Linked DNA regions of Homo sapiens: regions 1 and 3 are each linked to region 2. The links come from fine-mapping of genetic effects on gene expression. A gene starts in region 2. Each other region holds a variant in brackets. All regions are shown on one strand. Distances are between the middles of the regions.

Region 1 (4,247 bases), 47 kb after region 2:
TTTGGCTAAGGCTGAATAGTTTTCCATTGTGTGTACATACAACATTTCCTTTATTCACACAACCATGATAGAGATTTCTTGGCTATTGTAAATAATGCTACAATAAACATGGGACGGCGCATATCACTTTGAGATCTTGATTTAAATCATTTTGGATAAATACCTAGAACTAGGATCATTGGATCATATGATAGTTCTATTTTTAATTTTTTGAGGAACGCTCGTTCTGCTTTTTACAGTGGCTACATCATTTTACATTCTCACCAACAGTATATAAGAGTTTTAATTTCTCTGCATCTTTGCCAACACTTGTCTTTTTTTAAAAAATAAGAGCTATTCTAAAAGGTGTGAGGTGATATCTCATTGTGGTTCCGGTTTACATTTATTTGATTATTAGTGACGTTGGGCATCTTTTCATATACCTGTTGGCCATCTATCTGTATGCTTTCTGTGCTAGTCTATTTGTGTTACCACAGTGAAATACCTGGAACTGGGTAATTTATGAGAAAAGAGGTTTAATCGGCTCATGGTTCTCCAGGCTGTACAGAAAACATGGCACCAGCATCTGCTCAGCTTCTAGTGAGGCTTCAGGGAGCTTTGGTTCATGGTAGTAGGTAAAGTGGGAGCAGGCGTGTCATGACAAGAGCAGAGCAAGAGAAAGAGTAAGGATTGGGGGAGGTACCACACTCTAAAACAATCAGCTCTCACGTGAACTATCAGAGTGAGAACTCACTCATTACCACAGGGGTGGCATCAAGCCATTCATGCGGGATCCACCCCCATGACAAACGCCTCTTTCCAGGCCTACCTCCCACACTGGAGATCACATTTCAACATGAGATTTGAAGAAGACACACATCCAAACCATATCACCTTCTTTGGATATATTTCTATTTAAATCCTTTGCCCATTTTAAAATCAGATTTTTGTTTTCCTCAGCTTTTGTTTTGTTTTGCTATTGAATCACATGAGTTCCTTATATACATTTAATAATAACCTCTTACCAAATATATGGTTTACAAATATTTCCTACAATTACTTAGGTCATATTTTCACTCTGTTGATTGTTTCGTTCCCTGTGCAGAGGCTGTTTAGTTTGATGTGGTTCCACTTGTCTATTCTTGCTTTTGTTACCTGTGCTTTTGATGTCATATCCAATAAATCATTTTCAAGACCAATGTTTTGAAGCTTTTCCCCTGTGTTTTTTCATAGAAGTTCTAAAGTTTCATATCTTACTTTTACATCTTTAATTCATTTTGAGTTTAGTTTTGTTCACAAATACTTAATAAGCACTTTAATCCTCATGCTGACCCTTGAATTACACTTTACTGTCCTCATTTTTCAATGAGAAACAGATTCAAAGTATTTATGCCTCAAGTGACATAGCAAAATTGTGATGAAAACAGAGTCTAGACCCAGCTGCAACTGATTCTGAAGGCTATTCTCTACTGACTGCCTTATAAAGAAATCTCTTTGTAGGCTGGTCTTTTGCTATAGCTCTTCCTCCATTATTGGTCATGTTTAATAACTGGTGAGTGTTTGGGTGTCTTCTGCATTACTAGAAATTCACAAGAGTTAAATGGCTGTGTTTCATGGCATGTAAAGTTATATACAGTAGATTAAGGCATGCACCTGGAGCTTCTCAGTTAGAGGGATGTTAAGGGAAATGTTTTAGAGAGCAGTAAAATAAAGGTATTAGTGTTAACAAGTGGAAACAACCTGTTCTATTTCATATGATAAAATAAATTCATCTTGTACTCCATTAAGGTGGCAGCATTGAAAAATAGCACTGGAATGTTCAACATATGATCAATCAAGACCTGGGTTTCAGGCACAAGTTTATCAAATTAAAGTGATGTGATTTTGAACAGCAAATTAACCTCAGTATTTTCATCTATAAAATAAAAATTATATTCTTTCTGCTAACTCGCAAGGTTGACTTAAAAATGAAATGAGAAAAAAATATAAAGATTTTATATTCCTCTAAAATTGGTGTGAATTTAGAAGAAAGAAGTTAAATTTGCCTTTTACCCATGACATATTTCCCAGAGACAGTAAATATTTCAATTATTCCCAATGTGGATAAACTTAAACTCTATGTATGAATTTAATAGGAAACATTCATTCTAAGCTTTTCTTCAATTGGCTCTATTCCTATCTAAAGTTGAGGAAATGGAGTTATTTGGGACATGTATGGTAGAGCCATGAAACCATCACCTTGACCAAATAAAAAGCATGATCACTTAGGCATTTTGCTGAGATAGCGCATGAATAGAAGTTCATAAAAGCCAAGTGATTTTTTACCATCTTGTGCATGTGATCTTGTGGTAAAAATTTAAGAACTTGGCCAGGCATGGTGGCTCACGCCTGTAATCCCAGCTCGTTTGGAGGCCGAGGCAGGTGGATCACGAGGTCAGGAGATCAAGACCATCCTGGCTAATATGGAGAAACCCCGTCTCTACTGAAAAATACAAAAAAAAAAAAAATTAGCCAGGCGTGGTGGCAGGCACCTGTAGTCCCATCTATTTGAGAGGCTGAGGCAGGAGAAGAGCGTGAACCCGGGAGGCAGAGGTTGCAGTGAGCCAAGATCGTGCCACTGCACTCCAGCCTGGGTGACAGAACGAGACTCCGTCTCAAAAAAAAAAAAAAAAAAAAAATTAACTTGGA[T/A]ATGCTTGACTTGATTTCATCATTCTAATTAATAGCCCATCGCTATTACAACTAAGATTTTTACTGTGTTAGCATTTATTGGATGCCCCCTATTCTCCAGGCACTGTGCTAAGTACTCTATGTATATTATCACCTAATTTTCATAAGAACCCCAGGCACAAAGTAATGTTACCAATAGAGACAAATAAATGTGTCCAAGGTCACACAGTATGAGATATGCAAGGTATAGCTAAGACTATTAAAAAGGTCACATTTATTTATTATAAATACATTCATTTATTTATTTGTTATTAATTTCTAATTACTAGGAAGAATGGTGTGTGAGTGACATTTGGAGCCATTAAAATGGATAAAATGGCCTTAGGAAAAGAGAAGCTAGTGAATGGGAAATGGCTGAGGACTAAGCCCTAGGATGTCCTAGAGTTAGAGGTCTGATAAAGAAGAGCAATCGCCTGTAATCCCAGCACTTTGGGAGGCTGAGGTGGATGGATCACCTGAGGTCAGGAGTTTGAGACCAGCCTGGTCAACATGGTGAAACCCCATCTCTACTGAAAATACAAAAATTAGCCAGGCATGGTCGTGGGTGCCTGTAATCCCAGCTACTCAGGAGGCTGAGGCAGGAGAATTGCTTGAACCCAGGAGGCGGAGGTTGCAGTGAGCCGAGATCATGCCACTGCACTCCAGCCTGGGCAACAGAGCAAGACTCCATCTCAATAAAAAAAAAAAAAGAGCCAGCAAAGGAGACTGAGAAAGAGTTTTCCTCAAGATGGAAAAAAGAAGCACATAAACATGGTCTCAAAAGCCTAGAAAATGAAGTTATTTAAGAGAAGGAAGTGGTCAGATTTGTTGAATCCTACTGAAATTTTGTGCAAGGTAGGACAAAATATTGACCATTTGCTTTGGGAAGATATAAAATGTTGGCAATGCTGATAAAAGTAATTTCAGTTAACAACAGTTCAATTACAGTGAGGTTAAGACAGAATAGAATGGCAGGAAGTGGAAGCAATGAATACAGAGAATTCTTTAAAGAGTTTTTTTGTAAAGAGAGCAGATATTGAAATGATAGCTGAAGAGGCATGGGGTATTTTTAAATGATAGGTGATATGAAGGCATATTTGTATGCAAATAGAAATGATCTCATAGAGAGGAAGAAAATAATAAATAATGTTGCAAAAAAGAAAGAGCATAGTGCTGATTTCCTAAAGCAGCAGTGAAGGGGATGGTCTTACATGAGAGCAGGACACCTATTCCATTATAACAGGGAGAAAGGCAGAGTGTGCAGATTCAGATAAAAGGAGGAGCCAGCATAGAAGATGAGGTCATTCTTTCCTGATTATTTTTCTGGGAACTATCTTGCAATGTTTTCAGCTGAGAGTGAGAGGGGAAGAAAAGTCGGACATCAGAAAAAGGTGGTACAGAGGAGAATGGGGAAATGAGTTTCCTAGAGAAGTGTGATAGGATTATATGGCATTGTGGAGTGCCAATTTGAGACTTGTAGTCATGACTTTGAAATGAAGTGCCCATCAGCACAGTTGTGTGCTTTTCTCCTACCATCCTGGAGCCTCTCAGATACAGGCACA
Region 2 (4,228 bases):
CCACATGATAACACTGCACTAGCAGCTTCCCTTATAAGGTGCTATATGGCAGAATCTTTTATATTCCCAAGTCACCCAGTAGTTTCTTTCTTTGCAACTCTATATACACAATTACTTGCCCAATATCTGCTTTCTCCATTAGACTATGGGTCCATGGTGAAAGGAATAGTGTCTATCTTGCTTTTCACACTGTCCTGATGCCTAGTGCCAGTGGAATGCCCATTATAAAGAAATAAATATCTGTGGTGCTTCTAGTTCCTACAGTGGCACCTTGGTTTTACAAAAGGGCATCTGGACTCTATGTGTAAATACAAAGTGTCCATTTGCAATCATTTTCAAAATAAAGTAAGTCTCAGAAGCTAAAGAAAGGGGAAGCAAAATTCTTCCTATATAAAGTATTTACTGTGTTCAAGACATATACGAAGTCTTATCTTCTGATAATGCTGTATCATCTAAAATTAGTATTATCTACATGTTTGTCTATCTTCCTGTACAGACCACATATAAAAATATTTTACTATTTAAATTTATGGATACTTCTAAATAGAAACATATATTATTTAGTGGAAACCCTGAAATTTAACTCATTGCTAGTATGTTTGTTATTAATTAAATCTTTGACAAAATAAAAAGGGCTAGGAAGAATAAAAATGTCCCCATATTAACGGCAGCATTATTTATACTAGCCCAAAACTAGGATGATTAAATCAATTGTGGTGTGTCCATACAATGGAATACCATACAGCAATGACAACGGACAAATTATTCTATATCCTACAGTAGAGATGAATCTCACAACAGAACTTTCAGTGAAAGAAGTCAAATGCAAAAAATTGAATAAGTTCCATTTATAGGAAGTTCAAATACAAGCAAAATTCATCTATGTTGTTCAAATCAGAATACTGATTGTTCTGGCCATAGACACAGTAGTGATGGAAGCTCTTGAGGTGCCGATAATATATTTCTTGATCTGTGTGCTAGCTCACAAGTGCTCACTTAGAAAAACTGCATTAGGCACTTACCACTTGCACAATTCTCTATGTGTTATATTTTAATAAAGGTTTACTTTTTTAAAAGCACTCCATAGTATCTCTAGCGATGAAGTTATACACACACACACATACATACATATATATTTTAACATACTTATGGGTAGATTCCTATCCAACTTACCTGTTCTTTAGTGTCTTTACTATTTATTTACTTATTTATGTTTCTGTATCCTAGGAACTAAGTAGAAGACTACCTAGCCTTCTATTCATTATTTGTGGGTTGGAGGTTGAAGTTCAAACATTTACTCAAACACATCCAAAACACATATGTGGCTTAAATATGGCTTTTCCTAGCCTTGCATAAATGTCTGATTCATATCTTGATGTACTCTACACTCTAGTGTCATAGAGAAAATAAGTCATTGGTCATAGAAAAACCTACATGCAAATCTTATTAACTTGATCAAAACCTAAGCTTAAAAAAAAAGCTAAGTCACAGAGATTCCTTTCTTTTCCAAATAACATTTTAAACACAATTTTTAGCCCTATTTAGTGAACTTCAATTCTTTAGATATGTTTTAGAACATAACATACTGCCAATATTCTCCACAGTATATTGAAGTTGAGAAGTGAAATAATTTTAACAATAAAATTTTATTAAAACATTACACAGTTAAGAAGTGTGTGTGTGAGAGATCTTTTCTCCTAATTATTCAAAATTTCACATAATATTTACATTAGAAAAATCTATCATGTCATATTCTAATTATAATGGTTTTAAGAAGACTAACGTCTTCTTCCAACTTACTCTGAATCTAAGGGACCACTTCTTTGCCACTAATAATAAAAGTTCAAGTTCATTAAGCAAAGATAGTATGGACTACATGAGGGCGTTAATATTCTGAGATGAAGACAGAAGGTTAATGACTAAAACTTTCAAACAAGTTTCTCTCTCTCTCTCTCTCTCCCTCTCTCTCGCTGTCTGTCTCTCTCTTGCTGTCTTCCATAAAGTCAGCAGGAACTTTGCAGCGTAAAAGGACACCCTAGGGGAAGCATGGCATAACTTGAAAGCGGTTTCCTGCTCCAGCCTAACCCCAAGCCTCTCCTGGGAGGGAGCGAGTGGAGCCTTCTCCCCGCCGGTCCGCTGGGAGGTTGGGAGACCAGGTGGCAGCAGCCTCCCCAGGCGCCGGGCACCCGTCGGCTGGCCCAGGGACTTACCACGAGCGCGCAGCACAGCAAGTTGTTCATTGTGGTCCCCGGAAACCTCAGGGGCTTGGAGGCGGCGGCTGGGCGAGCGCTCCGGTGCGTCTCCGCAGCCCGTGCGCTCATCACGTTATATATAGCGTCCCGGCAACAGGAAGTATCGCCTGCCTTTGATCAGTCATTTTTCTATCCTGGACCAAACTTTGCACCTTTCTTTTTTAGGAAGCTTGGGCGGGAGCGGTCGGGGGGTGTGCAGAAAGCTCCAGGGTTAACGCTTTCAGGGCTGGGGCGGAAAGGATCCCCCAGGGAGGTGGGGCGTGAGGGGTGGGGCGGTGGTGTCTGGCCCCTGGGAGAGCAGGGGAAAAAAAAGCCACCGGGCTGAGGAACAAGGCGGCTGCTGTCTCCGCGGGGCTCTGAGGTTTCCCGGCCCCTTCCCGCCAGCGGCCAGCCTCCTGGCAGCCGGGACCAGCGGTGGGAGGGCTGGGCACACGCTGGGCAGCTGCTGTGCTTGTGTCTCCTCCACCCTGAGAGTCCGATCCAGCCAAGATCCGGACGCAGTTGGAGTGTGTCCCAGACCTTTGTCCTCTCGCTGGGCGAAAGCTGTGAGTTTCCGCCGTACCCGGCTGCCTGACCCCTTCACTTCGGGTTCTGAAACCTCAAATTACAGGGCCCCTCTTTATGCATGGCATTGTCTGAGCCCTTTTCGGGGAGTTCGCAATCATTCATCTTCAAGTTTACATAAACCATGTAGTAGGAATTTTTCTAACTAATGTCTGATTGGCCCTAAAGCCCGTGCTATTCTGCATTCACTCCTTGTTATCTGGGGTAGTTAGAGCCAGAGAGAATCTGCAGAGTGAAAATTGGACTGCCTGGGGCAGGGATAACCTTGCGGAGCACTGTTCCCTTCACCAACCCCACCATCATCAAAGGGCTATTGGTATCGGAGCTTCCTACGCGCTGAACTTCTGGAGTAGCCTCCTCGAGGTCTTTCCACTAGCCTCAAGCTATCGACAGAAGTTTGGCACTTTGCTCTAGGGTTCGCTGTCTCCCCCATTAATTCCCTGGTCTAGAAGTTAGACTTGATGACTTGTAAAGTGTGGTCCCATTCATGGATTACAGTTCGCGGGTTGCCACTGAAATTGTTTACAGATGGCTGAAAAAGTCCCTGCAGAGCTGCTTCCCCATCAGGGCCAAGTGTTCAAGTTATATGTCTCCAGAGAAGGGCAAATACTGCCTTTCACCAGATTCAAGGGAAGGAAGGTGAAGAATCAGGAGAGGGGACCCCTGGGGAGCAAGGATGGCTTACCAGGATCAGAGCATCTGCCCCTTCCAAGGGACATCCTTCCACCACGAGTTCAAAGTGGATCCACAGACTGTTCCATCCTGCAAATTACAGAAGACGGGGTGTCATTCAGCTTTGTCCCTCAAGGGCCAGAATGTAACAGCATGCTGGTTTCTTAAGTGAACTAGTGAATAAATGTAGCTCAGTGAGTGTGGACAAAATTGTATGACTCCAAATCACTCCTTGTATTTTGAATCGTAGTTTTGACATCTGCAACCTGAGATATCAACACTTAGACTTGCCATGGGACTCAAGTCAATCCAAGTGTTAGTAGTGAAACACAATATAAATAGCAGTATTATTGTTTTTGTTAGAGTAATGTTTGTCTAGGATATTATTTGAAGGTGTTTTTCTCAGAACATAAAATGATGCCAATATGTGGGTGTCAGACCTTGGAGAAAACTAATCAATAACTGAGTCCTTCAGTGTTAACCCTGGGAAAGGTTTACGTCTCCCTGAGCCTCATCTATAAGATAAAAACACACTGATATTGCAGAAACGTAAGAGAAAGCAAATGGGAGCGTTTAAAAAACAATTATATAAATGATGGTAATCACTAATTATGAGCATTAAATAAAGTAATGCATGTAAAATAACTCAGCACAATGCCTGGCCCATAGGAAATATTTCCTATAGTTATGATTATTCTAGGGGAATACCTAAGATACTGGCCTTTGTAACCTAGATTTGA
Region 3 (4,247 bases), 36 kb after region 2:
GTACTCTCCTTTCCACATATGTTATAAGATATACATTCACTGGGTCCAAAGGGCAGATTGAACATGTGCTCAAGCCTCCTTCTCCCTCTCTTGGTCCCCAGATATAACATACAGTTCTAGAAAATAAAGGGGTCTAGAAATTATTAGGAAATCCTGAAGAAAGAGATAAAGAAAATCAGTGGTCTAGAAATTATTAGGAAATCCTGAAGGAAGAGAAACCTAGAGTCAAAAGCATAGCTCCAAACACATTCCAGGTGGAAGAGGACTCATAGTTACTCCAAGCTGGGTGGTGGTAAATAAGATTGTCAGGTAAGGGCCCTGAAGTGCATATCAGGGGTTTGACTAGAGACCTATAGCAGTTCCGATCTGAAGTTTTCACCGTCTTTCAACAATCAGTTATGCCAAGCAGTGACCAGAAGAGGCAACTACTCCACTACCATCTTTGGAGCCAGAGTGCAGTAAACAAATGCAGCACTTATAGAAAGGCTCCGTGACAGACTCTCTAGTCATGATGATCCCATGGTCAAGAATCACCAAAAGTTGGGGAAATCTAATTTAATGATGAATATCAATATTAATACAATGAAAACTCCAAACAAAACCAAAGCAAATACAAACATACCATGAAGTTACTAGAAATGACAAATTAAGACTTTAACAAAAGTTTATAACTAGTAAAGATATGGAGCAATATTATATCTATAGAAAAGAAACAGATGTAGAGATTGGAAATTCAAAATCTGGCCCTTGAAATTTAAGAATGCATCTGATGCTCTGAGCAGCAGAATAAACATAAAAGTTCATTCACTGAAGAGTTATAAATTGAATTGAGACATTTTCTGTACTCAGGAAAAGAGAACAATGTGATTGAAAATGCAGAAGAAAACCAACGTCCAACCATTCTAAATAAACCTGTTAGAATTCCAAAAGAACATAAAGAGCATGGATGGAATAAAATATTCAAAGAAACAATAAAAATTATTTTACAGTGCTAAGGAAAATAAATAGATTATAAAATTGAAAGTAATGTTTGGATGCCAAAAAGATGAATGAAAAGAAGACCCACATCTAAGCCAAAATGTAGAAACAACTCAAATGTCCATAAACAGATGAATGGATAAACAAAATATATTTATGTACACTCAATAAAATAGTATTTCTCCATTAAAGTGAATGAAGTACTGATGCATTCTACATTGTGGATAAACCTTCCAAGCCTTATGATAAGTGAAAGAAGCCAGTCACAAAAGGCCATACATATTGTATGATTCAATGTACATGAAATACCTAAAACAGGTAAATTTATAGACACAGAAAATTGGTAGTTTTCAGGTATAGGATGTGGAAGGAATGGGGACAGATGTTTTAATGGGTAAGGGGATTTCTTTTAGGGTGTTGAAATGTTTTAAAACTAAATGGAGGGTATGGTTGCACAATATAGTATGCTAAGTACCATTGAACTATGCACTTTTAAAAGATTAATTTTATGTTATGTGAATTTCACCTTTAAAAAAAGAAAAAGCAACAGGGGAAGAGAGGCGAATACTTTGTCTCGTCTCTGAGAGACACTTGGGAATGCTTGCGGAACTGTTCCTGGAGAGTGAAAACAAAAAAAACAAACCCACACCTCGATATATTGTAAGTGGAAATTTAGAACTTCACATGTGAAGAGAAAATTCTAGAAGTTTCTGGAGAGAAAAGCAGACAACTTACAAAGGAGCAAGAATGATTGATAACCAGGCTGGGTGC[A/G]GTGGCTCACACCTGTAATCCCAGAACTTTGAGAGGCTGAGGTGGGCAGATCACTTGAGGCCAGGGGTTTGAGACCAGCCTGGCCAACAGGGCAAAACCCTGTCTCTACTGAAAACACAAACATTAGCCAGACGTGGTGGTACAGGGCTGTAATCCCAGCTATTTGGGAGGCTGAGGCATGAAAATCTCTTGAACCCAGGAGGCTGAGGTTGCAGTGAGCCGAGATCGCACCACTGCAGTTCAGCCTGGGAAACGGGGTGATAATCTGTCTCAAAAAATAAAAAAGAAAGACTGATTACATACTCCTCATTAAAAACACTGAGTTCAAGAAAACATTTAAACAATATCTTCAAAGTGTTGAGAAAAAAAAATCTGAGCCTTGAATTTTATGTCTAGACCACTATCATTCATGTGAATGGCAGAATAAAGATAGATGTAGACATTCCTGGACTTAGGATATTTGTTACCCATAATCCTATCTGAAAAGCTTATTAAAGTTATATTTCACCAAAATATTTAAAAATCTTCGATGTGTTTTATCAGGAGCATGATAAGCAAAGAAACTGATAAAACTTTTTATAAAAATAATAAATAGTCTTTGGTTTCAGCACCAACAGGTAGAGTGTGGAAGTCATCACTCCTGTCCTTAGAACAATAAAAGCTGAACAAACTAAAAATCAACGCATGTTTGGTTCTACCAGAGAACCAGGGGCTCATGGCAAACCACCCCAAAATCTGGAGAGACAGGTGCATCCAGAGAGATCGAGCTGAGATCTGTTCACCTGGAAAAGAAGCTGCTGGAGCCATAGACTGGTGGAACCATTAAATGGTAAATTTGATAAGTTGTTGAAGGCTGACTGTGAACTAGCATGAGTAAGAAACTATTAGGGACCCCAATCTTAGGGGTTTCCTAAAAGTTTGTGGGTTTTGCTTCCAGGAATATTATCAGATTCTCATCATGAGGATCTGGGAAAGATCCCCTTAGGGTTCTGGCGGTGGAGACAGGGGTAGGGGAGAGTAAGTATTGAGAAATGTGTCCAACTCCTCTCTCTAACAAAGACGTAGTCTCCATGTGAAAGTCTTTAGCAGAGAGCAATTCTGAAATCTGATCACAGCCAGAAACAGGGAATTCTTCCCACTCTAGTCCCTTCCAACCCTCTTGTTTCACCTAAGAGGGGAAAGACATCATCAACAGGAGTTAAGGCTTCAAGGAAATAGACTGGGAATGAGGCAGCCAGGGAAAGGAGTAGGAGACGAGAGAAAAAGTGGCATCACTGGCGAAACATCTGTGAAGGTCACTGCCCTGAGTCACAGACTGACTAAAAATCCAAGATCTAATTGGAAGATTATAGGAGGTTCCTTCTTCACCACACCTTACCATCACACTGACAAGTATAATAACAGTGGATTATAGCTGGAAAAGCTGCATGACACAGACTCTCTGAGGACTGCATAAAAAATGCCCAAGTCAACAGGGGAGCCAACAACAGAAACTCTAGAGGAATTAGAAACCTCTGACACCTATAGCTACAACAAATATTAAACATAATCTAACTCCTAGCCAGATTAACATAAATCCTCACACTACAGGCCATTTAGCTCAGTTTTTATTACCCAATACAATATGCCTGCCTTTCAACAAAATCATAAGGCATGCCAAAAGGCAAAACAAAACAAAACAAAACCAACCAATGAACAAAAACATTCTGAAGGGACAAAGCAGTCATCAGAATGCGACTCAGATATGACACAGATATAGAATTATCAGGCAAATGATTTAAAATAACTATAATTAATGTGCTAAAGGCACTAATGGAAAAATAAGATAGCAGACGAGAACAGATGAGTAATGTAAGCAGAGAGATATTCTAAGAAAGAATCAAATGTAAATGCTAGAAATCAAAAAGCAACAGAAATAATGAATGCCTCTGATGGGCTCATTAGTAGCGTGGACATAGCTGAGAACAGGATCAGTGAACTTGAACATAGATAATAGAAATTTTCTAAACTGAAATGCAAAGAGAATAAAGAATGAACCAAACAGATGAGAAAATCCAAACTATGTGACAATATCAAAAGGTGTAATGCCTATAGTTGGAATACCAGAAAGAAAGAATGGAGCAGAAGAAATACTTGCAAAAACCATGCTCAAGTGTTTCCCAAAATTAATGTTATACACCAAATCATGGATTGAGTAAGCTTAGAGAACACCAAGCAGGATTTAAAAAAAAGACAGACAAAATACACACACACACACACACACACACACACACACACACACACACACCCCTACCTACCCATAACCTACTCAAACTGCAGAATACCAAAGACAAAATCTTGGAAGAACAAATAAAATTATAGTCTTGAAAATTTTAAGATTATATCAATGTGTTAGTAGCTTGTGGTGAAAGGATGAAGGCAACTAAAAATTTGCATGTGTGTGTGTGTGTAGGAAGGCTGTATACACAGATTAGCTCTAGATAGTAATAAATGTCACA

Alleles and levels. Positions count from the first base shown, and alleles are read on the strand shown. Sizes are in standard deviations (SD) of each study's normalised expression. Not every link is listed here.
In carriers of allele G in region 3, the expression in fetal neocortex of the gene that starts at base 2,304 in region 2 tends to be lower than with A alone (moderate effect, 0.54 SD a copy in Walker 2019).

What was found. PIP is the estimated chance that this variant, and not a neighbour inherited with it, causes the effect. A credible set is the group of variants that fine-mapping cannot tell apart.
Region 1: its variant is the best candidate, but not a certain one, in a credible set for the expression of TNFRSF11B in lung (TOPMed, PIP 0.51).
Region 3: its variant is the best candidate, but not a certain one, in a credible set for the expression of TNFRSF11B in fetal neocortex (Walker 2019, PIP 0.55).

The regions. Positions count from the first base shown.
Region 1 is chr8:118,996,212-119,000,458 of GRCh38, forward strand. It overlaps a transcript of COLEC10 not described here. Among named protein-coding and RNA genes, the nearest start is that of TNFRSF11B, 46 kb to the left of the region's middle. The variant T/A (reference allele first, on the strand shown) is at 2,668.
Region 2 is chr8:118,949,582-118,953,809 of GRCh38, forward strand. It overlaps TNFRSF11B (TNF receptor superfamily member 11b), which reads right to left and starts at 2,304. Exons shown (of 5, transcript NM_002546.4): 1 at 2,211-2,304. The coding sequence starts at 2,240. It also overlaps a transcript of COLEC10 not described here.
Region 3 is chr8:118,985,543-118,989,789 of GRCh38, forward strand. It overlaps a transcript of COLEC10 not described here. Among named protein-coding and RNA genes, the nearest start is that of TNFRSF11B, 36 kb to the left of the region's middle. The variant A/G (reference allele first, on the strand shown) is at 1,750.